4 linked regions of the Homo sapiens genome follow. The protein of the gene in region 3 purifies or fractionates together with the protein of the main gene of each other region. This does not show direct contact. Each region holds a gene or a part of one and is shown on either strand. Other genes may lie near its edges. The genes, in order: APOOL, OMA1, SLC15A1 and IPO11.

Region 1 (6,874 bases), on a different chromosome or scaffold from region 3:
TATGGTTAAGAGTCCAGGTTCAGGACTCATACCATGTGATTTCAGATCCAGCTCTACCACTTTACTCCTGTGTGACCTTGGAGTTACTTGACCTTTTTAAGCTTCTGTTTCCCTACCTGTAAAAAGTGATTAATATAAATTCCTACTCATAGGGCCAATGTGAAACATAAATGAGAGAATCCACATAAAGTGCTTAGCAAAATTCCTAGCACGTAGTCAATATTCAATAACACAATAGCTGTAAATACTATTATCTTTCCCTCTAGATACCTCCTGGTACATTTTCCCTTGTCTCCAAAGTAGCTCAAGTCTTCTGTCTCCTGTTTTGTTTTTAGTTTTTTTTTTTTTTAATTAAAAGACACCTTTTCTGGAATTTGCTACCCTCATTCCAAGATTTTGTTCCTTCTTTTCACCACCAAACTTCTCTAAAGAGTAATGTATAACTCCTTTCCAGAGGAAGCAAGGAGGAGTGGAAAGACTTTGGAGATAAATATACTGTTTGAACCTAGTTCTTCCACTTAGTGGTTGTATGACCTGGAGCAAGCAGTTTTTCTAAGCCTCCGTTTTTCCATCTGTAAAATGGATATATTACCCATTTCTTAGGGTCATCAAGAGGATTAAACTAAAATAATATATGTAAATCATCTGGCCAAAGTGGGTGCTAAATGAATGCCAGTTCTCCATCCCTTATTCTTTTCTTAACCCCATACAATCTTGGTTGTTCCTCTACCACTCTATTTATCTCTTTAGCTCACTTCAGCTCTTATTAGCATGGTTTTGAATAATCTGACTTCTCTAAACCTTAATTTTCATGTGTAAAATGGTAATAATACCCACCACATAAAGTTGTCTTGAGAATTAGTGAATTAACACATGTAACGTGTTTTAGCATAGTGCCTGGCCTGGAGTAAGCACTTAATAAATGATAACAGCAGCAACTTATTAATGGTGAAATCAAAGGACTGTTCAACTCTCTTCTTCTCAATGAAAACACACTATTCTGGTTTGCTTTTTGCCACTGACCATTCCTTCTGTCTCTGCACCTTCTCCATGAAGCCTCTTTTTACTCTCTTCAAACCAAGTGTGAGCTCTCTCCTTTTGAGCGTCAGAGCACTTTGTACTTCTCTTCAGGTAAGAAACTCCCCTTACTCTGAATCACAGTCATTTGTGTTATATGTGTTATATCTCCACCACTTAATCTCTTCTGTCCTCATTGCCTGGCACTTTATTCATGTAGAACATGTTGACTACCTAATATACATCAGACCTGTGCTAGGTACTACGGATACAAAGGTTAATATAATTACTGTCTTCAAGGAGCTTATAGTTTAGGTAGCTAGAACAGACAAGTAAGTAGTCTATATGTGCAGTGGAATAAATGCTTGGTTAAGAGTGTGCCCAGAGTCCTCTGGGAGCACAAACAAGAGTTATTAAAATAGACTGGCGAGGACCGGGCGTGGTGGCTCACGCCTGTAATCCCAGTACTTTGGGAGGCCCGGGGGGGGGGGGGGGTGAATCACGAGGTCAGGAGTTCGAGACCAGCGTGACCAACATGGTGAAACCCCGTCTCTACTAAAAAATAAAAATAAAAAAATTTAGCCGGGCATGGTTGGCATGCGCCTGTAGTCCCAGCTACTCAGGAGACTGAGGCAGGAGAATCGCCTGAACCCGGGAGGTGGAGGTTGCAGTGAGCTGAGATCGCGCCACTGCACTCAAGCCTGGGAGACAGAGAGAGACTCCGTCTCAAAAATAAAAAATAAAATAAAATAAAATAGACTGGGGAGATCAAGGACACTATTAAACAAGGCATTTTTGTGTTTTGCATATGGGGAGGCTGTACACAAATAGCTGCTGAATGAATGAATGAACTATAAATACAACTAGATAAGCATGGGAAAAGGCACTTTAGGCCCAGAGAAAGAGCACGTAAAAAAGCATGGCGGGGTCAAGCAAGCAGCTCAGTATCGACAGGAGGAGGGTTCCTGAGTGACAAGAGATGAGGCTGGAAAGTCTAGGTAAAATCAGATGTTCTAGACATAAGAGTATGGCCTGACCCCAGAGGGGAGATGATGACATGCCCATAAAATTTTTTAAATGCGGGGGGAGGCAAAAATCAAATTTGCATTTTGGTAGATGTACTCTGGCAACACAGAGGAAAACAGATTACATGAGAGCCAGGCTTGAGGTGGCAAGTTCAGGTAGGAGGTTGTTCAAATAACTCAGATGAAGTATGAGAACCAGAACTGTAGACGCTGCCGACTTAAAACTTCAGCGGAACTGAATTATTCATACTGTATCTCCTGCAAGCCTAACAGAATATTTTACAATTAAAACCCGCTACGTAAATATCTGTAGACTACCATTATTAAACACTACTTAGGGAACTGCAGCAAGCTGCCAGCTGAGTCACTCACTGTACACGGACTCCCAAGTAAAGGCACCTTTCCCAAGCGTAAAACTCGAAAGGAACAGGTTATTCGAGCACAGAAAGCAACAACACTATGTGTAAACCAGCGCACTGCTGAAAGACTATGGGACCTCTCTATCCTGGTCAGTTTCACCCCAAATGTTTCAACAAAGTCCTTCCATAGGGTCATGTGGCCTTGCCCTGTGCGCCGAGACAAATGCCAAGTTTATATATATATTTTTCTCTTTATTGCAGCTGAAGACCGAAACGTCTACTGCGGCTCGTCGCCTGGCCAGCCATTTTCACCCAGCCGTTTCCCAGTTTTGTACTGTGCCACTGTGTAAATCGACAACCACAGGGGATTGAGGGAGCAGCGTCCCAGGCTGATAAAACCCTAATGGGGAAAGGCAGGTGTCTTGAGGCTTCAAACGATAAAGATTGCAATTATCTCAAAACCCACCTCCACCCTGCCCCTTGTTTCAGGGCTCCTTCAGAAGTTAGTAGGATCCCTTTTACAGTTACCGGGATGCTATCGGCACCCACAGAAATTAAGCAAGTTGGTTTTCGCTTACCCTGATGGCCGCCATGTCTACAACCCTTTCGGCCAAGGTTTTCAGACGGAGAGCAGAGAGGGACAAATCAGTTCGACTAGGCTTCCCTTAGGACAGCCCCACCCCGTTACGCCCCTTGCCTGCCAGTTACCGCCTTTTCTCCGCCCTCCTCCAGCCGCCTTGGCAACTGCTGCGGTTTCGGTCAGCTGTCTTCTGGAGAAACTGTTCACCCCTGTGGTTGACCCTCCCGGTCCCAGATAAAGCCTTCCAGAACATTATCAATAGTCCAGTTGGGAGTTATTTTCCTGGGTGCAGAACTTTTAATTATTTTGTTTCGGGCATATGTGATATGTCCAGATAAGGACTTAATACCCAAATGTAGCTGCTTTAATAATTAATTATATAGTAAGAAAAACAACTTATTACCTCTGCGAAACATGGGTAAGTTCATTCATTCTAAAACTAAGTCACGGAGAGCATACTCTGTGCCGGGCAGTTGTTCGGGGCATAGACAAAACATAGTGGCTTCCTCACAGAGCTTATGATTACAGGAGTAAAAGAGACAAATGAGGCCGGCGCGGTGGCTCACGCCTGTAATCCTGGCACTTTGGGAGGCCGAGACGGGCGGATCACGAGGTCAGGAGATCGAGACCATCCTGGCTAACACGGTGAAACTCCGTCTCTACTAAAAGTACAAAAAAAATTAGCCGGGCGTAGTAGCGGGCGCCTGCAGTCCCAGCTACTCGGGAGGCTGAGGCAGGAGACTGGCGTGAACCCGGGAGGCGGAGCTTGCAGTAAGCGGAGATCGCGCCACTGCACTTCAGCCTGGGCGACAGAGCGAGACTCCGTCTCAAAAAAATAAATAAATAAATAAAAATAAATAATAAATTTTAAAAAAGAGACAAATGCTATGAAGGAAAATAAAACAGTATGGGAATGAGGTGGGAGTTTACTGGTTTATATCAATGAGAGAAAGACTCTGATAAGCTCATTTGATAAAAGTCCTGGAGGAATTTAGAGAAGAGGGTTGCATACGGAAGGAACAGCAATGAAAAAGTCCAGTGAGGCTGGAGCAATAATTTCAGAGGTAGCGAAGTAACACAGTGTAGGGGCTTTCGTGCCGCCAAAATAAATTTGGATTTTATGCTGAATAAGATGGGAAATCATTGGAGGATTTTGAGCAAAGGTGTGATGTGATCTAATTTACATTTTTAAAGGATGATTTTGGTGCTATCAGGAGAATATACTAAGGGTATATTGCAATATTCACAACAGGAGCAAGGTCTGCTGTAGGCCTCCCTGAAGGATTCTGAGGAAAGAAGATGCTCATAATATGCCCATTAACAGTCCCAATATTAATTCATGTATTCATTCATTCAATCAACAAATATTTATTATGTGCAAACTATATACTAGGCATTAGTTGATACCTATCACATTTCATACCCAAAACAGATCCTTTTTAACAGAACTGTCCTGTAAATGACAAAATTATTTTAAGAAATAATGATGAAATGAAACTAATAATACTGGCTACAAAAGAAACATTGAGTGACTATTTTCTTTTATTGAACTTAATATAAACATATACATACATATATATGCCAATATAAAAATAAAATGCAAAATAAATAGTACAGAACCAAAAAAGGAAAAAAATGGATCAAGGTGTTTTAATTGCATTAATGTATTTTTCAAAGGAAAAATACTTATATCTACATAGTGGTCTGCCACAGGAATGAATAATAATATTACAGTTTCTGTTTTTGAGCCTTAACCTCTGTGTATTTGTCAATAATTTCATCCAAATTTAACATTTCTGCATATTAAATAAATGGTATACCTAGATTTGTCAAGCTAACTTTGTTCATAACTGATTGATGCACACTTTTTATTGATTTTAATATCAGTCAGGTTTATTTCACAATAATCAACAGGCAAATAAGAAAAGTCTTAAAATTGTGAATAAGCTTAGAATAAATTTATAACAATCTTATTTCCCAAAAATTTCAGGAATTTCAATAACACCCATGTTTTGTTGTTGTAGTTGTTGTTGTTGCTTCTTTTCCAACTTTAACTTTTATTTTGGGTTTGGGTACATGTGCCGGTTTGTTATACAGGAAAATTGCATGTCAAGTGGGTTTGACATACAGATTATTTCCTCACCCAGGTAATAAGCATAGCACTTGATAGGTAGTTTTTCAATCCTCACATTCCTTCCACCTTCCACCGTCAAGTAGGCCCCAGTGTCTATTGTTTCCATCTTTATGTCTATGCATACTCACCATTTAGTTCCCACTTATAAGTCAGAACCTGCAGTATTTGGTTTTCTGTTCCTGCACTAGTTCACTGAGGATAATGGCTTCCAGCTCCACCCATGGTGCTGCCAAGGATATGATCTTATTCTTTTTTATGTTTTTGATGGCTGCATAGTATTCCATGGTATATATGTATCACATTTTCTTTATCCAGTCTACTGTTGATGGGCATTTAGGTTGAGTCAATGTCTTTGCTAGTGAGAATAGTGCTGTAATGAGCAGACCCATGCATGTGTCTTTATAGTAGAATGACTTATATTCCTTTGGGTATATACCCAATAATGGACTCCCTATTCAATAAATGGTGCTGGGAAAACTGGTGAGCCATAGGCAGAAGACTGAAACTGGACCCCTTCCTTATACTATAATAAAAAATTAACTCAAGATAGATTAAAGACTTAAATGTAAAACTCAAAACTATAAAAACCCTGAAAGACAACCTAGGCAATGCCATTCTGGACACAGGAACTAGCAAAGATTTCATGACAAAGACACCAAAATCATTGCAACAAAAGCAAAAACTGACAAATGGGATCTAATTAAACTAAAGAGCTTCTGCACAGCAAAAGAAACCATCAATAAACAGATAGCCTACAGAATGGGAGAAAATAATATCCAGCTTCTGTAAGGAATTTAAACAAATTTACAAGAAAATCAAACAACCCCATTAAAAAGTGGGCAAAGGACATGAACAGACACTTCTCAAAAGGAGATATACATGCGGCCAACAAGCATATGAAAAAAAGTTAAATATCAGTGATCATTAGAGAAATGTAAATCAAAATCACAATGAGATACCATCTCACACCAGTCAGAATGGCTATTATTAAAAAGTCAAAAAAATAACAGATGCTGGTGAGGTTGCAGAGAAAAGGGAACACTAATACACTGTTGGTGGGAGTGTAAATTAGTTCAACGATTATAGAAAGCAGTGTGGCAATTCCTCAAAGAGCTAGAAACAGAAATACCATTCAACTGAGCAATCCCATTACCGAGTAAATACACAAAAGAATGTAAATGGTTCTATCATGAAGACACATACACACATATGTTTATTGCAGCACTATTCCCAATAACAGACATGGAATCAACGTAAATGCCCAATCACTATAGACTGGGTAAAGAAAATGTGGTACATATATGCCATGAAATACTACACAGCCAAAAAAAGAATGATATCATGTCCTTTGAAGCAACATAGATGGAGCTGGAGGCCTTTATTTTAAACTAATGCAGGAACAGAAAACCAAATATCACATGCTCTCACTTATAAGCGGGAGCCAAATGATGAGAGCATGTGAACATAAAGAGGGGAACAACAGACATTGGGGCCCACTTGAGGGTAGAGGGTGGGAGGAGGGAGAGGGTCAGAAAAAATAACTATTTGGTGCTAGGCTTAGTACCTGGGTGATGAAATAATCTGTACAACAAACCCCTATAACACAATTTTACCTATATAACAAACCTGCACATGTACCCAAGAACCTAAAATAAAAGTTTTTAAAAAAGTAAATAAATAAAAACAATATTAACTTTTTCAATCCAAAAATAGAAAAAAATTCATAATTTCCTTACACTCATCTTTTCCTATATGAACA
Region 2 (7,039 bases), on a different chromosome or scaffold from region 3:
TTAACTACTTCCTTCTTGTTAGGAGGAAGTGCCTGCCACCATTTCCTTATGCCCCTAAAGCAAAAAGAAAAATTCAAAGTTCTGAAAATCATTCCAGCACATATCACTAAAGCTCAAATGCATACACTAGAATTTTACGTCCTCAAATACCTGAATTTGTATGATGTATTTCGCTGAATACATCGCTTTTCCAATTAATAAAATTCTTAGCTAAATGATGAAAAAATAATCAATGATGTAAAGTTACAGTTAAAAAATTCTAATACTCATCGAAATTTTCTTCTTCAGCTATTTTAAGGATAAACACTAAATGAGATGCTAGTTTACTATAACTACCACTGGTTAATATTTATTACTATCTAGTACATGCAAAATTCTCTCTCTCTCTCTCTCTCTCTGTATATATATATATACCATCTCATTTAATCTTCATAATAACCCTGTTACAGAAGATAAAATTGTTAGGTAACTTGTCCATGGCCACTGAGGTAATAAAAGGAAAACCAAGCAATGAAGGCAATGACATTCCAGAGTCTGACCACTTAGCCACTTAATAGGGATAAATGCCTAAATAATTATGTAAGAGGTTACAGTACAATAAATCTATACCTGGAACCACTACTTTTCCCACTGCTCCTCAGACCTCCAACACAATTTGCCAGTGATTCCACAAGGTACAAGGGAAACTGCCTCAGCATTCATTTTGGAAATAAATAGTGCTCAGTAGCAGAAACTCCACTATCCTCTTTACAACGTGAAAAAGGAGAGATAACAAGATCCTAGGTATTCATAAGAAAGTGGGAGATTTTATAGATAACATCTGAGAAGGTCCAATTTCTACCAGGCAACAATACTCTCTGCCACTTAGCAGTGTTCAGAAACATTTTGACAACAAGCAATGTTTTCAATACTGGGACAAAAATTTTCCTTATGAGTTGATCTGTAAAATCACAACAAAAATTTACCATATATACATCATTCTCTTGACAAAAATTTATTTTACAAATTCTTAAAGTTCTCTTTGTGAAGTGACACACCCCAATGCCTTTACACAAAGTGTGTCCATTTAAAGGGACATAAATCAAACTATCGAGTATACTTATTTCCTATTTAAAACTTTACATGACATTATCCTTTATTTAAAATGTATGAAAGACATATTCTAAATGAAAAATTTTAGGTGATCAACAATAGTAACAAAAACAAGAAAGTTACAAATAAATAATTTAAAAGGATGAGGACATAGCAGAAATCAGAAAGAGCATCCGAAGAACCTGGGATGAGCGTATTACTTCAACCAATAGTCAATACAGCTGTATCGCTTTTGGGTGCCAACACCAAATCATGAAAAACACAATAAGTTACAAATAGAAGTTCTTGGTTTTTGATCAAAAGCAAACTGGTTTGGTTCATGTGGTAGTAAGAAGGCTAGAAGGGACTTCACAGTCATCAAACACAAGAAAGCTTTATGAAGAAACAGTGATTAGCTTTCTTCCATCTTCATAAAACAAACAAGAGAAAAAGGGTTAAAGCACTACAAGCTGTGAAAATATTATTATAAAGGATCACCAAGGAAAAAAACAAAGATTTGTTGGGAACAGAATAGAAAGAAAAGAAGCATTAATGACTTAAGAGTTAACTAGGAGTGAGCCCACCCTTATATAAGCAAAGTTCCTCAATTTTATGATTTGCTGCCTTAAATTCCACAAATTAAAAAGAAATGTTTGTAAGTACTCTTCTTATACATAAGTGATAACCAGCACTTCTGATCCATATATCCTAAGATTTTGTAGTCATAAATATAAGATTTTTTTAATGCCTATACAAAATGTAAGAATAACTTTTTAAAGAGATATTTCTATACCATAAATTAGTATGCAGGAAATTGTTTCAAGATTATTAAATCATACAGAACAAAATTGGGCAGGACCTACTGTTTAGAAACTTCACTTTGAGCTAAATGGGGGGAGACAGGGGATCTGGCAAGGTTTCTTTAAAAGTACAGTTTTATAAATAAAAAAATTAATTTCTAAAAGTTAATACGTTAGCACAAAATATTAATGCAAAAAGTTAATATAAAAGTTTTTATTCTAAAAAAGCATTTTACCTGCCTACAATGATTGCAAATAACTTCTGTACTGGTTTAAGAATCATCAACAAGAGAGGAACCGGAGCAGCTTGAAACCGTGGAGAAGTATGGAAATTCCTAATAGCTCTTATGGAAGCAGGGCTTAGAGGATGCAATACTGACAGACTAGGGACTGCTGTAACTTCTTTTATTAGCAGCTGTCTTGAAAAAGCATCATTCCATACAGTACATTTGCTGGTAATCCTCCAAATTTCCTTACTTTTGGTACTTGAGAGGCCTCCTGTTCTTTTGTTGTTAAAAGTACTATAAAAATGAAAGTTTCCAGGCAGAAAACTCCACCTGTCACACTGATTTACTCCCAGTCCCTGATACTTATTTACTATATGGTTAACTTGTACTTGATGACAGCCCCGTGAGGTGGATGCTAATGTGTTACATTTTCTCCAGTTAGACAGTGAATTAAATCGGAAGAAAACATGGTTTCTAGCAGCAGACTGCAATCCACAGATGAAGCTCATTTTTTCACTTGACTACCTGAAACAAAAAAAAAACTATAAATATCTGTGGAAAATATTTACTTACCAAACTGGGACTATAACACTTATTAAATAGGCGTGTCAGTTGTTCTTCTAACACATCTCAGGCTAAATTACCTTGGGTTTCAACTCATCACCCCTAGAGCAACGCCTTTCAGCAAGATAAACCAGAGTATATATACCACGATATTTACTATGCAACGTTTACTTTAGAAGCTTGAATTTTTTTCATTTCATTTTTAATTTTTAGTTAGGGAAGAGCCATTTGTATTTTAATGGCAAATGATTTGAGCAATAAAGTGGATTAGATAAAAACAACAGTAAAACTTTATCAGTTTGCAATAACTGGAAGGAAGCATGTGATACAGAATAGTAAAATCTAACTTATAAAATGCACTGGACATTACGCAATGAAGAACAGTGATCCCTAACAGATGGGAAACAGAGCCCTACAACTGTCCTAGCTTATTGCCTGGAGAGTGCTTCCAGGCCACAATGCAGACAGGGTAAACCTAGGTGGAGCCCAGTGGTTCCCCTAAATCGAAGAGATAAAGCTGGGAGGTCAAGTAAACCAAGGTTGCTAGAGCTCACAGGACAGAGGACAAGAGAAGACAAGAGCTGCACAGAGAAATAACTCTAGAGTTCTGCAGAGAATCCCCCTCCCATATTCAGCTGAGTCCTGTCTGGGCATATGTGTAAGAAAATTCCCTGGAGCTGGGAAAGGGCCACCTGAAAAGATTGCAGGGAATAATATACAGGGCTCACACAGGGCATGGTATACTGCCTATCCCCTCCCCACCATTCAAAGTGGAAAACCTTATCATTCGTGGGTAGAGTACTCAGAAGGGTTTTGCCTCAACATTAGAGAAAGATTAGTCTGAGACCGAAAGCTGCTCTGGCCCCACCTAACAAATATTAAAAGCAACCCCCAAAAAGATTAAATGCTTCCAAGCAACAACTGCATCCCAGGAAAAAAAAAAAATCTAAACAGGTATTAGGACACAAAACTATTTAACACTTAACAAGGTGCAATTTATAATTAAAAATCACCAAGCATGCAAGCAGCAAGATATGTGATCCACAATTAGAAGAAATATCAATCAGTGGAAACTAACTCCTAAATAAACAAATAACAGCATTAGTAGATAAGGATATTAGTTATTGTAACTATACTGCACATGTTTAAGAAGCTAAAGGAAAATATGAGCATGTTATGTAGAGATATGTAATATATTTCTTTAAAAGACCTAAACTTTTAGACAAGAAAACTGTAAGAACTAAGATGAAAAACATACTAGATGAGACTAACAGCAGATTAACATTGTAGAAATAAAGATTTGTGACTTTGAAGACGTATCAATAGAAACCATCTAAAATGAAATACAGAGAAAAAATACAATAATAAAAAAAGGCACAGGGCATCAATGAGGTATGCAATAACTTCAAGTGGCCTAATATTCATCTAACTGAAGTCCCCAAAAAGCGGGGAGGAGGTGTAGACAGAAAAAAAAAACACTTGAAATAATGGCCAAAAGTTTTCCAAACTTGATGAAAATTATAAAACCACAAATTCAAAAAGTTTAACAAATCCTACACAAAAGAAACACAAAGGAAAAAAACTACAAGGCACATAACTTCTTAAAATCAATGAAAGATAAAATCTTAAACTTGACATCTTAGGTGAACTGTATAAATTCATTGAAAAACACAAAAAAAGCTGGGCATGGTGGCTCACGCCTGTAATCCCAGCACTTTGGGAGGCCGAGGCAGGTGGATCATTTGAGGTCAGGCATTCGAGGCGTGAAACCCCGTCTCTACTAAAAATACAAAAATTAGGCAGGTGTGGTGGCACTTGCCTGTAATCCCAGCTACTCAGGAGGCTGAGGCAGGAGAATCGCTTGAACCCGGGAGGCGGAGGTTGCAGTGAGCCGAGATGACGCCACTGCATTCCAGCCTGGGCAACAGAGTGAGACTCTGTCTCAAAAAAAAAAAAAAAAAAAAAAAAAAAAAAAAAAAAAAAACAGGAAAAACACAAGAAAGTACATACTCTGATTACATCTCTATAATATAAACTGCAAAAAATGCAAACTAATCCATAGTGACAGAGAGATGAGTGACTGCTTGAGGAGTTGTAGGAAAAAAGCAGCAGGGGAAGGGATTACAAAGAGTGGTGCTTGCCTGTAAACCCAGCTACTTGGGAGGCTGAGGCAGGAGAATCACTTGAACCTGGGAGGCAAGAGACTGCAGTGAGCCAAAATTGTGCCACTACACTCCGGCGTGGGCAACAGAATGAGAACCTGTCAAAAAAAAAAAAAAAAAAAAAAAAAAACCAAAAACAAAAAACAAAAAAACCCAGATTGAGGGAATCTAAATATGAATTGAATTTCAAGTTGTTTTAGGTAATTATTATTTTCTTAGGTGATAATATTGTGGTTATCTGACTATTTTATTCCTGAGATACTTGCTGAAGGATCTGTTCATGATAAATAAAACTCACTTTCAAATTGTACAGCAAAGGTACACACACAAAGGACATAAAGTCAATAAACAAAATATCAGCAATCATTGTATCTCAGTGATAGTTACATATGTGTTCCTTAAATTTTTCTGCATGTTTCAAAATCTTCATATAAAAGTTGGGGAAAAAAATATGTAAACTTCAACCTAAGCTAATACGATATTATCTAGAAAGATGCTCCAGGACTACCAGTTTTAATAGTATTATCTATATATCAAACCATTTGAAAATTACTCAAATTTATTTTTTATGTAATTCATACATCCTGCCCTTGCACTGTTAATGTATAATGTTAATAAAGGGCATGCTAAGTAAAACATTAACTTTGAGTTAACCCTTTTTGAAATACAACCAATTTTAAATTAGTAAAGTCCAGGCTGATATATAATAGTTTGACATTATTAACAAGATACTTTGTTTTTACTTTTTTGAACCAAGCTGAAAAATTGTTAAATAATTTAAGCCTAGAAGTCATTTCACAATTCATACTGGAGTAGCTAGTAAGGTTTTCATTGGCTAGGGGCCATGAGAGTTATGCAGCACAGAATATAGTCCTGCTCTCATGGAGGTTATAATCTAGTTGGGGAGACAAAACTGAACCTAAGTAAGACTATTAGGGGATAATAAAATTCAGTTATTAAATACTACATACTGTATGCATTCTTAAAAAGACATCCATGAGTAGCTGAAGAGTTCAGGAAGGCAGCAATTATTTTTCATGCCATTTAGGCAGATGCAGAAAGACAAAAAAAAATGGAAAGAACTGTTTTAAATGGGAAAGTGTTTTAAGGTTTAAATGTAAAGTCTTCTTCTAGAAGTCAAACTGCAAAAACAACCCAAGCCCACTTTCTTTCCTTGACCTCAAATCTGATGATTTACTGTAGTAGATAAGCTTCAGACACTTGCCCAAGCACAAGTCCTTTTCCAAATGTGCATCTTACAGCCTCATTTTAGGGGACAGGCTTAGACGGCCACATTCATCCCTAGCAACCCCTACCATTAGCTACAGAGCTAGGAGTAGGTATTTGATACTGAAAAGATTTTACATAAAACAGTATTCCGCACAGGAATATAAGGGCATGTGTAAGTTGGGTCTACAGCGGGTGCTATGGCTAAACAAAGCAATATGAAAGCAAGAACTACAAACAAAAAGCTTTTTTAAAAAAAAAAAAGTGGATCCACAGAAAAGACAATGGACTATTAAGTGTAGACAGAAGATAAGTGAGAGACCACAAAGCCAGAGTGAATATGAGAGAATAAGACCTCCCTGATTCCCATGAAACCATTGTACTTCCTACACTTAATTGAGCTTCATGAGCTTTTACTTTATCCCCAAAATAATGCGCTTTCTTCAATGAGTTTCTGTATTCTGCAAATAAATGATCTCTAAGACGTTTACATGGTATAAAACAGTTATACATTTGTTTTTGTAAATTGACAGCATTTTAATATTATACATGTTGTTTACTGGAACTAGCTGAGGGTTCCTCCTACACTTTGCAAAGCCAAATTTACCAATTTTCAACATTTAATCAGTTCCAGAAATACTGGATTATCTCTACAGCAACTTTAGCATCCAAAATATCTCAGCCCACATTAAATCAGTCATGTCAATTCTACCTCCTTCTTATCTCATTCTAGCCTTTCCTGGGCTCTGTGGTCTTATGGTGTTGATCACTACCCACCTAATCTCCCTGCCTTATTTCACCACTAACCCCTCCCACTACAGTTTGACCCCAAACTAGAGCTAAAGCATTATTTCTAAAATGCAAACCCTGGCAACAGAATCCTACCCCGACAATTAACATACAGTCCTACCCTGGTAAATACCAGGTAATCATTTAAAAAATGACATGATGATCTGTAAATCTTTAAAAGATTTAAAAGATAGCAATC
Region 3 (3,411 bases):
AGCTCCGCCTCCCAGGTTCACGCCATTCTCCTGCCTCAGCCTCCCCAGTAGCTGGGACTACAGGCGTCTGCCACCACACCCAGCTAATTTTTTATATTTTTAGTAGAGATGGGGTTTCACCGTGTTAGCCAGGATGGTCTTGATCTCCTGACCTCATGATCCACCCGCCTCTACCTCCCAAAGTGCTGGGATTACAGGCGTGAGCCACTGTGCCCGGCCTATCTATCTATCTTCTATCTACCTACCTACCTTTATCTGTTTGTCTGTCTATCTATCTATCGATCATCTACCTACCTACCTTTATCTGTTCATCTATCTATCTAATCTATCTATCTATCATCTATCTATCTGCCTATCTACCTTTCTTTATCTGTTTGTCTGCCTATGTATCAATCAACCAATCAATCAATCATCCCTGGGGAAAACAGGACCAGGAAGAAATTTTAATGAGCAGGTGCTGCTTTTATAATCAGATAGGATGTTAAAGATTTCTTACCCTACCCAGAGATACATGAACACTTAGGCTTAAGAACAGAAATTTATTTCACACCATTGAAACTTCAAAAAAATCATTACTGGCCTTCACCTGAGCTGTCTTTCGAGTTATCCATAATTTAAACACAGGTAGGGACTAGAAAAACAAAATAACAAAAACCCAAAGGTAAAGTTATCAGTTAATACCAGCTGGTCCTTATCACAGCCATTTCAAACCTGTACGTTCACTTTTGGCCTTGGCTCCTGCCTCCTTTAGAATAGTTTTCGTAAGAGTATTAGAAATGAACAGTATGGAATAGGAAACTTTGTTACCATTTCAAAATTAAGCTAGTCCAAAATAACATCATTTGTGTGATAGGGAAGATGACCAATGTGGGGTGGGCTCACAGTACTCTAAGACAGTGTGTGTACGTGTGGCTTAAATAAGCCTTTCAAACAGAAGACTTCTTCCAGAGTTTTAGATTCACTGCTGGCTGCTTAGAAAATAGCGTTCACGGCCGGGCGCGGTAGCTCAAGCCTGTAATCCCAGCACTTTGGCAGGCCGAGGTGGGCAGATCACCAGGTCAAGAGATCGAGACCATCCTGGCCAACATGGTGAAACCCCATCTCTACTAAAAATACAAAAATAGCTGGGCGTGGTGGTGCATGCCGCTAATCCCAGCCACTCGGGAGGCTGAGGCAGGAGAATTACTTGAACCTGGGAGGCGGAGGTTGCAGTGAGCTGAGATCGTGCCATTGCACTCCAGCCTGGACAACAAGAGCAAAACTCTGTCTCAAAAAAAAAAAAAAAAAAAAAAAGAAAAGAAAAAGAAAAAAGAAAATAGCATTCATGGTTTAGTTCCCAATTCTGAAGTCTTCCTCATCAGGGGCCATCCAATGGAGTGTCCTGCTACCTGGGGGCAGAGGTCAGGGCATCTGCGGGCCCAGTCCATCCTCCACTTGCCTCCTGACCTTCACATCTGTTTCTGTGAATTGGCCCCTGACATGAAATATGGGTTACTCTTTTCCAGTCTGTTTTTCTTTTCATCCTCATCAAATTGAGCTTCGATCTCCGCTGGGTTGATGTAAGTATAGAACCGAGCCATGATGGCAAAAATTACACAGACGACCAGAAGCAACGCGGCAAATAGAATGTACTCGGCCCACTTTGAAGAAATCAGAGTTGGAGCAGGAAAAAGAACAAAAATAAAACAGGTCATACTGATGAATATATGGTGCGTACATGTTCTTGCTACATGCAGATGGAGAGTGCTTTGAAATTAAATTATGGAAAATTGGTAAGCAACCAATACAGATACAGTAAGCCCAGCTTTTCTGGAATGCCCAAGATAGATAGATGCTAATATAGACAACATGTTTTGAACAGCACTAAGGTACAGAAACAACAGACTTTGGGAAGATGAGAGAAAATTTCTGAAATACTGAAGCCTTAAGACATGTGGCTGGACCTGGAAGGATGGGGACCAAGAGAACAGCAAGCAGTCCCCACAAGGGAAAAATGAATATGCTGAACTCCAGCAAGTTAAGAGCCCCACGTTCCTCCTTGGAAACACCTGGAGCTCATAAGCACACAGCATTAGCACATCTGCTGCTGGGACCTGGTGCAGGAAGTCATGAAACGGATGGGATAACAGCTCCCTTATGAGGCAGACATGCTACAGTGCAGAAGGAAAGAGTGTAAGTATCAGTAGAGCCCTCATTTAATTTTAGCTGGAAAATTTATAACCAACTCTAGGATGGCTTTAACTTCAGGTGTTATGAAAGTTCCAGGATAACATGTGTCTGCTTTGCAGCTGCTAAGCTGCATTCACTGAAGCTAGGAGAGATGTTTCCCTTGATAGTAAAACACATAAGGGCAACTTCAAGTTAACCCATTCCAGCTATTTTGGTTGTCAATTTCCAGCTGCGTTAACAACAAGTGGGAATAAGAAGAATCATCAGGCCAGGTGCAGTGGCTCACACCTCCCAGCACTTTGGGGGGCCAAGGTGGGCAGATAGCGAGGTCAAGAGATCGAGACCATCCTGGCCAACATGGTGAAACACTGTCTCTACTAAAAATACAAACATTAGCCGGGTGTGGTGGTGGGTGCCTGTAGGCTCAGCTACTCTGGAGGCTGAGGCAGAAGAATCACTTGAACCCGAGAGGCGGAGGTTGCAGTGAGCCAAGATTGCGCCACTGCACTCCAGCTGGGCAATAGAGTGAGACTCCGTCTCAAAAAAAAAAAAAAAGAAGAAGAAGAAGAAACAGCAGACACTTTGCCATAAGGCTATTTGGGAACAGCCCTGGCTGGTCTGGCAGTTTAATCCAGCTATTAGCCTAGATGACCACACAGAGCACACAGATGGCTAGGGAAGGCCACCATGATGACCATGAACAGGAAAGACAGAGGTATGTGCAATCTCCTCTCCCACGCCATACCTGTTTGCTGAACTGGCCTGCCCCTGCCACGATGAGCACAATGATGTTGCCAACAGCCACGGTCAGCAGCCATCCTGCCTGAAGCACCGACTTCATGTTGGAAGGAGCCTGAGGAAGCAAAGCAAAGTGAGTCCTGCTCCAGGTCTCACCCTCCGAGCAGGAGAACACAGCTCACCGATGGGCGTTTCGTGAAGCAGATCACCCTAACAATGCACACGAAAAGTCAGGTGGCCTCAATGTAAAAAGGATCATCACTTAAGTAACAAGACACCCAAACATGCACAGACGAGTAGACAAGAATTCCTGTGTTTCACGCTCCACATCCTTGCAAAGCTGTCCCCTTAGTTAAATGGACACATCTACGGAGGAGCTGATCCTATTTCTACAGGAGAGCTTCCAAGCAAAGCCACCCAGCCTGGCATAGTCTTCCCCTCAAATGCAGGCTGCCCTGGGCTGCAAGCTTGCCCTTCTGTGGCTTTCCTGCCACATCTCCAAAA
Region 4 (7,039 bases), on a different chromosome or scaffold from region 3:
AGGCTGAGGTGGGCAGATGGCTTGAGCTCAGGAGTTTGAGACCAGCCTGGCCAATATGATAAAACCCTACCAAAACTACACAAAAATAGCTGGGCATGGTGGCACACATCGTGGTCCCAGCTGCTCAGGAGGCAGAGGTGGGAGGATCACTTGAGCCCAGGAAGCAGAGATTGCAGTGGGCCAACATCATGGCACTGCACTCTAGCCTGGGTGACAAAGTGAGACCCCATCTCAAAAATTAAATAACATAAATAAAGTTACAAAAAAAAGTATGTAAGTATTCCCTGCCCCCAAGAAGTTTATAACACACCTAAAGGAATTTAAAAACACAAAGTAGTGTACTAGGACTTTAGAAAAGGAAGAGAAGAAATGGGCAGAGACAGACGGAATCTGAGCAAGTCTTTGAGATAAACAATATTGGAGCCAAAGGGTGGAAAAATGTCATTTCAAGGGACAGAAACTGTTTGAACCAAGTGACAGAGGCAGAAGTAACAACTTGTGTAGAGTGAGGTAAAAGCACCAAAGAACCATCAATTTTGGGACTAAGACCATATTAGACTCTGTTCCAGATAAAGAATATGAAACTCAGAAAGGTAAAATTCCAAACTCATAGACACATCCAAACAGAAGTAAAAGTATAGATCACTTTGCTATTTAATGTGTGCATTGCTTGATTTTTCCCAGACCTACTAAGTCAAAACCTAAACTTTAACAAGATTACCAGGTGACTCATATGTACATTAAAGTTTGAGAAACACTGGTCTACATCAGCTTTGTCCATTAGAAATATAATGCAGGCCACATATGTTATTTTAATTTTTTAGTACCCACATTATAAGAGAAAAGAAACAAAATCTTATTCTTTGGGAGGCCAAGGCGGGCAGATCACGAGGTCAGGAGATCGAGATCATCCTGGCTAACACAGTGAAACCTCGTCTCTACTAAAAAAAAATACAAAAAAATTAGCCGGGCATGGTGGCGGGCACCTGTAGTCCCAGCTACTGGGGAGGCTGAGGCAGGAGAACGGCATGAACCCGGGAGGCAGAGCTTGCAGTGAGTCGAGATCGCGCCACTGCACTACAGCCTGGGCAACAGAGCAAGACTCCATCTCAAAAAAAAAAAAAAAAACTTATTAATATTTTTACATATCCCAATATATCCAAAATATCATTTCAACATGTAATCAATAAATATTTTACATGGCTTTAAATTTTAAATTTAAATTAATTAAAATTGGAAAGTTGTTGCCTCAGTTGCACTAAGCACATTTCAAGTGCTCAATAGCTACACGTAGGGAGCTTCTGCACTGGACAGTGAAGGTCTTACACTAAATAGCCTCTAGGGTTTAAGGACAACTAAACTGCACATTTGTTTCGCCAATGAAAGCTTTCTCTCCATCAAAGGCTCACTAGCTCCCTGAGACTAAGTCAGAGTCTATTTTATTTAACACCGCCTATAGGACATGGCAAATTCCAAGTGTTAAAAATATATGTTAACTGAATAAATGATTGAATAACTGAAGAGATAAACAGCTACTTACTGTTAAGAATTACTTTTAGAGTATCTCCAGCTCTACAAATTCTGTGGCTCTAAATGTGACCTATGCATTCATTAGTTTAGTCAACAAATATTAACTATCTATGACTATATGCTAAGTATTCTGATAGGCCCCAGGTATACTGAAGTGAATCAGTAGAAGTGTATCCTTCAAATTAAGAAAAAAGCCCCTTAGAATTTTTTCAAATTCTCCAATTTTAAACTAAGAAATAATTTTATAAACTATGAAAGAGGTTTTTCCTTTCATTTTATGCATTCAATACCTAAAATTTAAGTAGACAAGTGCTTAAATGTATATAAAACGTAAGAATTGGGCTGGCCAGGTGTGGTGGCATGCGCCTGTAATCCCTGCTACTCAGGAGACTGAGGCACAAGAATCGCTTGGACCTGGGAGGTGGAGGTTGCAGTGAGCTGAGATTGCACCACTGCACTCCAGGCTGGGTGACAAAATGAGACTATTTCAAAAAAAATAGAATTGGGCAAATGTGCTATTAAATGTACTAAATTAATTCATTTCATAATTCATATTACTAAATGTAATATGAATCTGTACTATTTAATTAGGTACCTCAATTAGAACTTAGAAAGGGTATTCAAATATTTTTGCCATGATGTCTCTATATCCTACTCTACCGTCTCCCCAGAGACTTGCAGTATGCATTATGTGATCCCAAGACATTCATCTTTCACAGATGTTACTTTGATTAGGCTACTTCTGACACTAGGCATACATCCTGCTAAGTTTCGAACTGTCTTTTTCTTAGGCATAGTTTCTTGAACTCAGAGACCTCCATCCTCCCTCATCTTTGCATAAAGTCCTCCTTTTCTCCTGCAAACTACCTGATATATCAAATACTTCCTAGATGTCAAAATTCTTATTCCTTTCCACATAAGACATTACCTAACTTATACGATTGCATTTTTTAAATTGTAAGCCATTTTAATGCCTTCCTGTCTTCATTAATAAAATAAATAAGGTAAAGTAAGTGTATAATAAATATAAAATTTTATACTTGCCTATTGTGAATGACTTGTAATTCTGGAAGAAGCTGGTTTTTAAACCACTGATCAAAATCAACACTGTCAAAGAGCTCATAAGCAGCTAATCCAACAGCATTATACACTGAGAAGAAAATTTAAGAAAAAAAATTAAAGGTTTCAGATATCAGATCTGCAAATGAGTGTATGAAACATATGTTAATTAAAGGAAACACACAATATGCTAATCAGGGAAATTATTTAAGTAGAAATAATTTAAGTAGAAGAAATAATTTATTTTAGAAACACTATTTTACTTCATGTTTTTCCTAAATATTCCTTACTACTTTCAAACAGATAATTCAATTCATTCTAAAATATTTAAGTCCAACTATAAAAATTATAAAATAATGCCTGCTTCTAAAATGGATGTAATATTTTATGATCTGGTCCCTACTTAACTCTCTCCAGCCTCAACTCAACCTTTAACCCCAATGTTCCAGTTAAACCAAAATAGTCACAATTCAAATTCTAACTGTGCTTCCTCCTCTTTCCTTCAAGTCTTTGTACTTATTGCTCCATCTCCCTGGAATGCAACACCCTCTTTCCATCACCACCTCCTCACACGTGTAACTCCTACTTATCCTTGTGTTCTTCCATTACACTTCTTTGGGAATCTTTCCTTAGACACACCAAACTATCTGGTGATCATCACCTACTTTAGCATTAACTATCCTGTATAGTATTATTATAATACATTATCTGTTTACTTGGTTATCTCCCCAATCAGATTGTTCCTGTATTTTAGTTACTCTTGTATCTCAACACCCTCAGCACAAAATCTACCACAAAACAGACTCTCCATCTACTGAATAAATAAATGCTTCTAAATCACTTAAGTTTAACATACCAGCATCTTTGATTAACAGTGCATTCATATCTTCCACATTTGTGGGTCCTAAAAAATATATATATAAATAGGTATCAGTAAAAGCAAATAAAACTAGTTTTTTAAAAAATTTATATTTAAACACAATTTGTTAGTTTCCCAATTCAATTAAGTATAACACATTTCATGGTGTCAAAAATGGACACAAGTACAAAGGGAAAGTCTAAGTTTTATGATTATCATTAGAGAACACAGGATTAAAAACCATTATAGCATATTTGAAAAATGTTATGACAAGCAATATTCTAGAAAATATACACCACAAAATGCTAATGTGCTATATACCACAAAATTATTTTTTTTGAGACAAGGTCTTGCTTTGTCACCCAGGCTGGAGTACAGTGGAGTGAGGTTTTCTCAGTTCACTGCAGCCTCATCCTCCTGCGCTCAAATGATCCTCCAACCTCAGCCTTCTGAATAGCTAGGACTACAGGTACTAACCACCAGGCCCAGCTAATTTTCCTAATTTTTGTAGCGACAGGTTTTTGCCATGTTGTCCAGGCTGGTCTGGGACTCCTGGGCTCAAGTGATCTGCCCACCTCAGCCTCCCAAAGTGCTGGAATTACAGGCGTGAGTCACCATGCCTGGCCAACACTCATTCTGACAACATGCTCTTCTCTAGGATACACCACTACACCTGGCATTTTTACAAGGCTTTTATTTACTCATATCCCTATAGGTGAAAATCTCAGGTTCTGTCCTTAAGATCCTCTTTTCTTTTCCCAAGGCTCCTTACATACATGCACTCCGAAAGTATATCTCTATCTCCTACCACTTCTAATGAGGTAACTGTTTCCTTGTCATTAAGGCTCAAAAGTTTAGGATCATCTTTGATCACTTTTCCTTGCCTAGCACATTCAATCGGTTGCTAAAAGTCAATCAAGTAACAATAGTTACTGAATATGCCCAGCACTGGGAATAAAATATAAACAAAACAGACGTGATCAATGCCCCTAGGACTTACAGTCTAGCAGAAAAGACAGAAATCATAAATCAATGTTAGTTAATAGGCAGATAATTAGTTACTTGTGTACAAAGTGTAATGACCAAGTGTCAAAAATTTACATCATCATTTTCTCTCAAATCCATAATCAATTATTTCCATTCCCACTGCCACCATTCTAAGAGAGGCTAACACTATTTTAACCTTTTCTCACTATTTCTCACAACACGCTCCAGATAGACTTTCTGCAAGCAGTATGACTACTGTTTTGCTTTTGCTTCTATTGTATTTACTACAGGAAAATTTATCATCGTCCAAACTATAATTCAAGGCCTATCTCAAATGCCACCCCCTTGGAAGATAATAAGTTTTAAAATTGTTTTTCTCAAATTCATATTTATTATATGACCCAGGAAACAGTACAGTATGCATTGTAGGCACTCAGACTATTTCTTAACTAAACGTTAAAGAGATTAACTCAAAGTTAATCACAAAATATGCCTTACCTTGAAGTGTTTGCATCATTTCTAGAAGTACAGGAGTAAGAGTCTGATTATATTCATGGAATATATCTATAAATAATACTTCAGTGCATGGCTGGAGAGGGAAAAATACAAATTTCTCATCAAAACAGTTGCATACTATATTGACTAATTCTTTAATAAAGCAAATACTTAATCTTAAAATTCTAAAACTTTGAAAATGTTTCCAACTTTTGATTTGTTAAAAAAAAAAAGTAAGGTTACCATTTTTTTATAACCAACACAAAGGAAAACAAAATCGAATTATAATTAATAAAAGAAAGTTGATTTCATTTCAATTATTTGTCATTACGCATTCAAAAACTTAAAACTATGGCAAGCAAAGTGTACATTTTAAATTAATCATACCTTAAATTTAAAAAGCATTCTGTAGCCACTCATTTATAGCTCAGTACTATAAATGGCTGACTACCCAAGATTCTTTTTTTTTTGAGACACAGTCTCACTCTGTCACCAGGCTGGAGTGCAGTGGTGTGATTTCGGCTCACTGCAACCTCCACCTCCCAGGTTCAAGCGATTCCCCTGCTTCAGCCTCCCGAGTAGCTATTATGTATTTTCTTAGCAATGATATAATAAGCAAAAACAGGAACTCCAATTTGCCAAATAAAGTAGCCTTTCTCTTAACAAACACAAGCGGTAACAGAAATTAGCATTAGCTACATTTAAAAAAATGATTTGTTTGGTTCTTAAAAGTACTGAATCATTTCACATTGCATGCTGGTATCAAAACATCTCATGTACCCCATAAATATGTACACCTACTATGTACCCACAAAAAATTTTTTAAAATAATTTTTTATTTAAATTTTAAAAAGGAATTTAATCACTAGATCGTTCACAATATTTAAATTTTTTAATTAAATTTTTAAGGTATTGTGTGGTGTTTTAAAAGGAACATTATAAATATACACACTGAAATATGGTCAGAGGATGTGTCATCTCAGATAACCATCAACACTGGGAGATGTTTACAGGAAGCTAAAGTAGCCATGAGTTGATAACTAATAAACTAGCTTATCATGAAGGGCTCATTATATTATTCTATTTTTTAATATGTTTAAACTTCTCCATAAAAGAAACTTTTAAAAATTAAAGGAATGAAATTTTTTAAAGTTTTAAAATCACCAGTAATCTCTCTGGTTAACAACTGTATGTTTATGAATCTAAAAACATTAAAGATAACATTTTTAGAAGACAAATAGCTAATTATGTAAATTATGTAAGTGCAAATCTTAAAAAGAAGAGCTCAAACATCACATCTGGTAACGGCAAAACATTTGTCATATTAATAAATGCGTTGTAAAAGTATCCTATAACTGAAAGCAATGGGCTAGTCTCTGAGAATCACATGAAGTGGTAAGAGAAATAACATACCAAAAGAAACTTTACTAATGAAATATATAGAAGGAAAAAATTCTAGCTTAAGAATGGCAGCTTTCAGTTTGACAAACATTTTCTATTTGTGTAATGACAATTATTTCCCAAGCAATGTACTAAAAGATGAAGAAAAAATTTGTTTTCCGACCCCAAGTTAAACAAAAGAAAAGGCCAGGCACAGTGGCTCACGCCTGTAATCCCAGCACTTAGGGAGGCCGAGGCGGGTGGCTCACGAGGTCAGGAGATCGAGACCAACCTGGCTAACAAGATGAAACCCCGTCTCTACTAAATAAACAAAAAATTAGCTGGGCGTGGTGGCGGGCGCCTGTATTCCCAGCTACTCGGGAGGCTGAGGCAGGAGAATGGCATGAACCCAGGGGGCGGAGCTTGCAGTGAGCCGAGATGCACCAGTGCACTCCAGCCTGGGCAACAGAGTGAGATTCTGTCTCAAAAAAAAAAAAAAAGAAAAAGAAAAAAGAAAAAAAACTCAGATTAAACGTCATAATTTAATATGAATATAGTTCTTAGTTTCTTATAAACAGTTTCTTATCTGTCTGACTTAATGTTGGGAATCTTTAATTTTTTTTTTTTTTTTTTTAAGAGACGGGTTTTGCTTTGTAATCCAGGCTAGAACGCAGTGGCATCATCATGGCACACGGCAGCCTCAACCTCCTGGGCTCAAACAATCCTCCT

Evidence for each region.
Region 1: the proteins of SLC15A1 (region 3) and APOOL purify together in Homo sapiens (affinity purification with mass spectrometry; 2 studies listed by BioGRID and IntAct, with this or other methods). This does not show direct contact.
Region 2: the proteins of SLC15A1 (region 3) and OMA1 purify together in Homo sapiens (affinity purification with mass spectrometry; 2 studies listed by BioGRID and IntAct, with this or other methods). This does not show direct contact.
Region 4: the proteins of SLC15A1 (region 3) and IPO11 purify together in Homo sapiens (affinity purification with mass spectrometry; 2 studies listed by BioGRID and IntAct, with this or other methods). This does not show direct contact.

The regions. Positions count from the first base shown.
Region 1 is NC_000023.11:85,000,033-85,006,906, reverse strand, and holds the start of APOOL (MICOS complex subunit MIC27 precursor), read right to left. Parts: upstream 3,031-6,874; 5' UTR 2,995-3,030; coding exon 2,980-2,994; intron 1-2,979. UniProt on the Homo sapiens protein: Component of the MICOS complex, a large protein complex of the mitochondrial inner membrane that plays crucial roles in the maintenance of crista junctions, inner membrane architecture, and formation of contact sites to the outer membrane.
Region 2 is NC_000001.11:58,536,688-58,543,726, forward strand, and holds part of OMA1 (metalloendopeptidase OMA1, mitochondrial precursor), read right to left. Parts: intron 2,624-7,039; 5' UTR 2,608-2,623; coding exon 2,108-2,607; intron 55-2,107; coding exon 1-54. UniProt on the Homo sapiens protein: Metalloprotease that is part of the quality control system in the inner membrane of mitochondria. Activated in response to various mitochondrial stress, leading to the proteolytic cleavage of target proteins, such as OPA1, UQCC3 and DELE1.
Region 3 is NC_000013.11:98,683,276-98,686,686, forward strand, and holds the end of SLC15A1 (solute carrier family 15 member 1), read right to left. Parts: intron 3,023-3,411; coding exon 2,915-3,022; intron 1,641-2,914; coding exon 1,449-1,640; 3' UTR 526-1,448; downstream 1-525. UniProt on the Homo sapiens protein: Electrogenic proton-coupled amino-acid transporter that transports oligopeptides of 2 to 4 amino acids with a preference for dipeptides. Transports neutral and monovalently charged peptides with a proton to peptide stoichiometry of 1:1 or 2:1.
Region 4 is NC_000005.10:62,485,756-62,492,794, reverse strand, and holds part of IPO11 (importin-11), read right to left. Parts: intron 5,025-7,039; coding exon 4,934-5,024; intron 3,494-4,933; coding exon 3,446-3,493; intron 2,681-3,445; coding exon 2,575-2,680; intron 1-2,574. UniProt on the Homo sapiens protein: Functions in nuclear protein import as nuclear transport receptor. Serves as receptor for nuclear localization signals (NLS) in cargo substrates.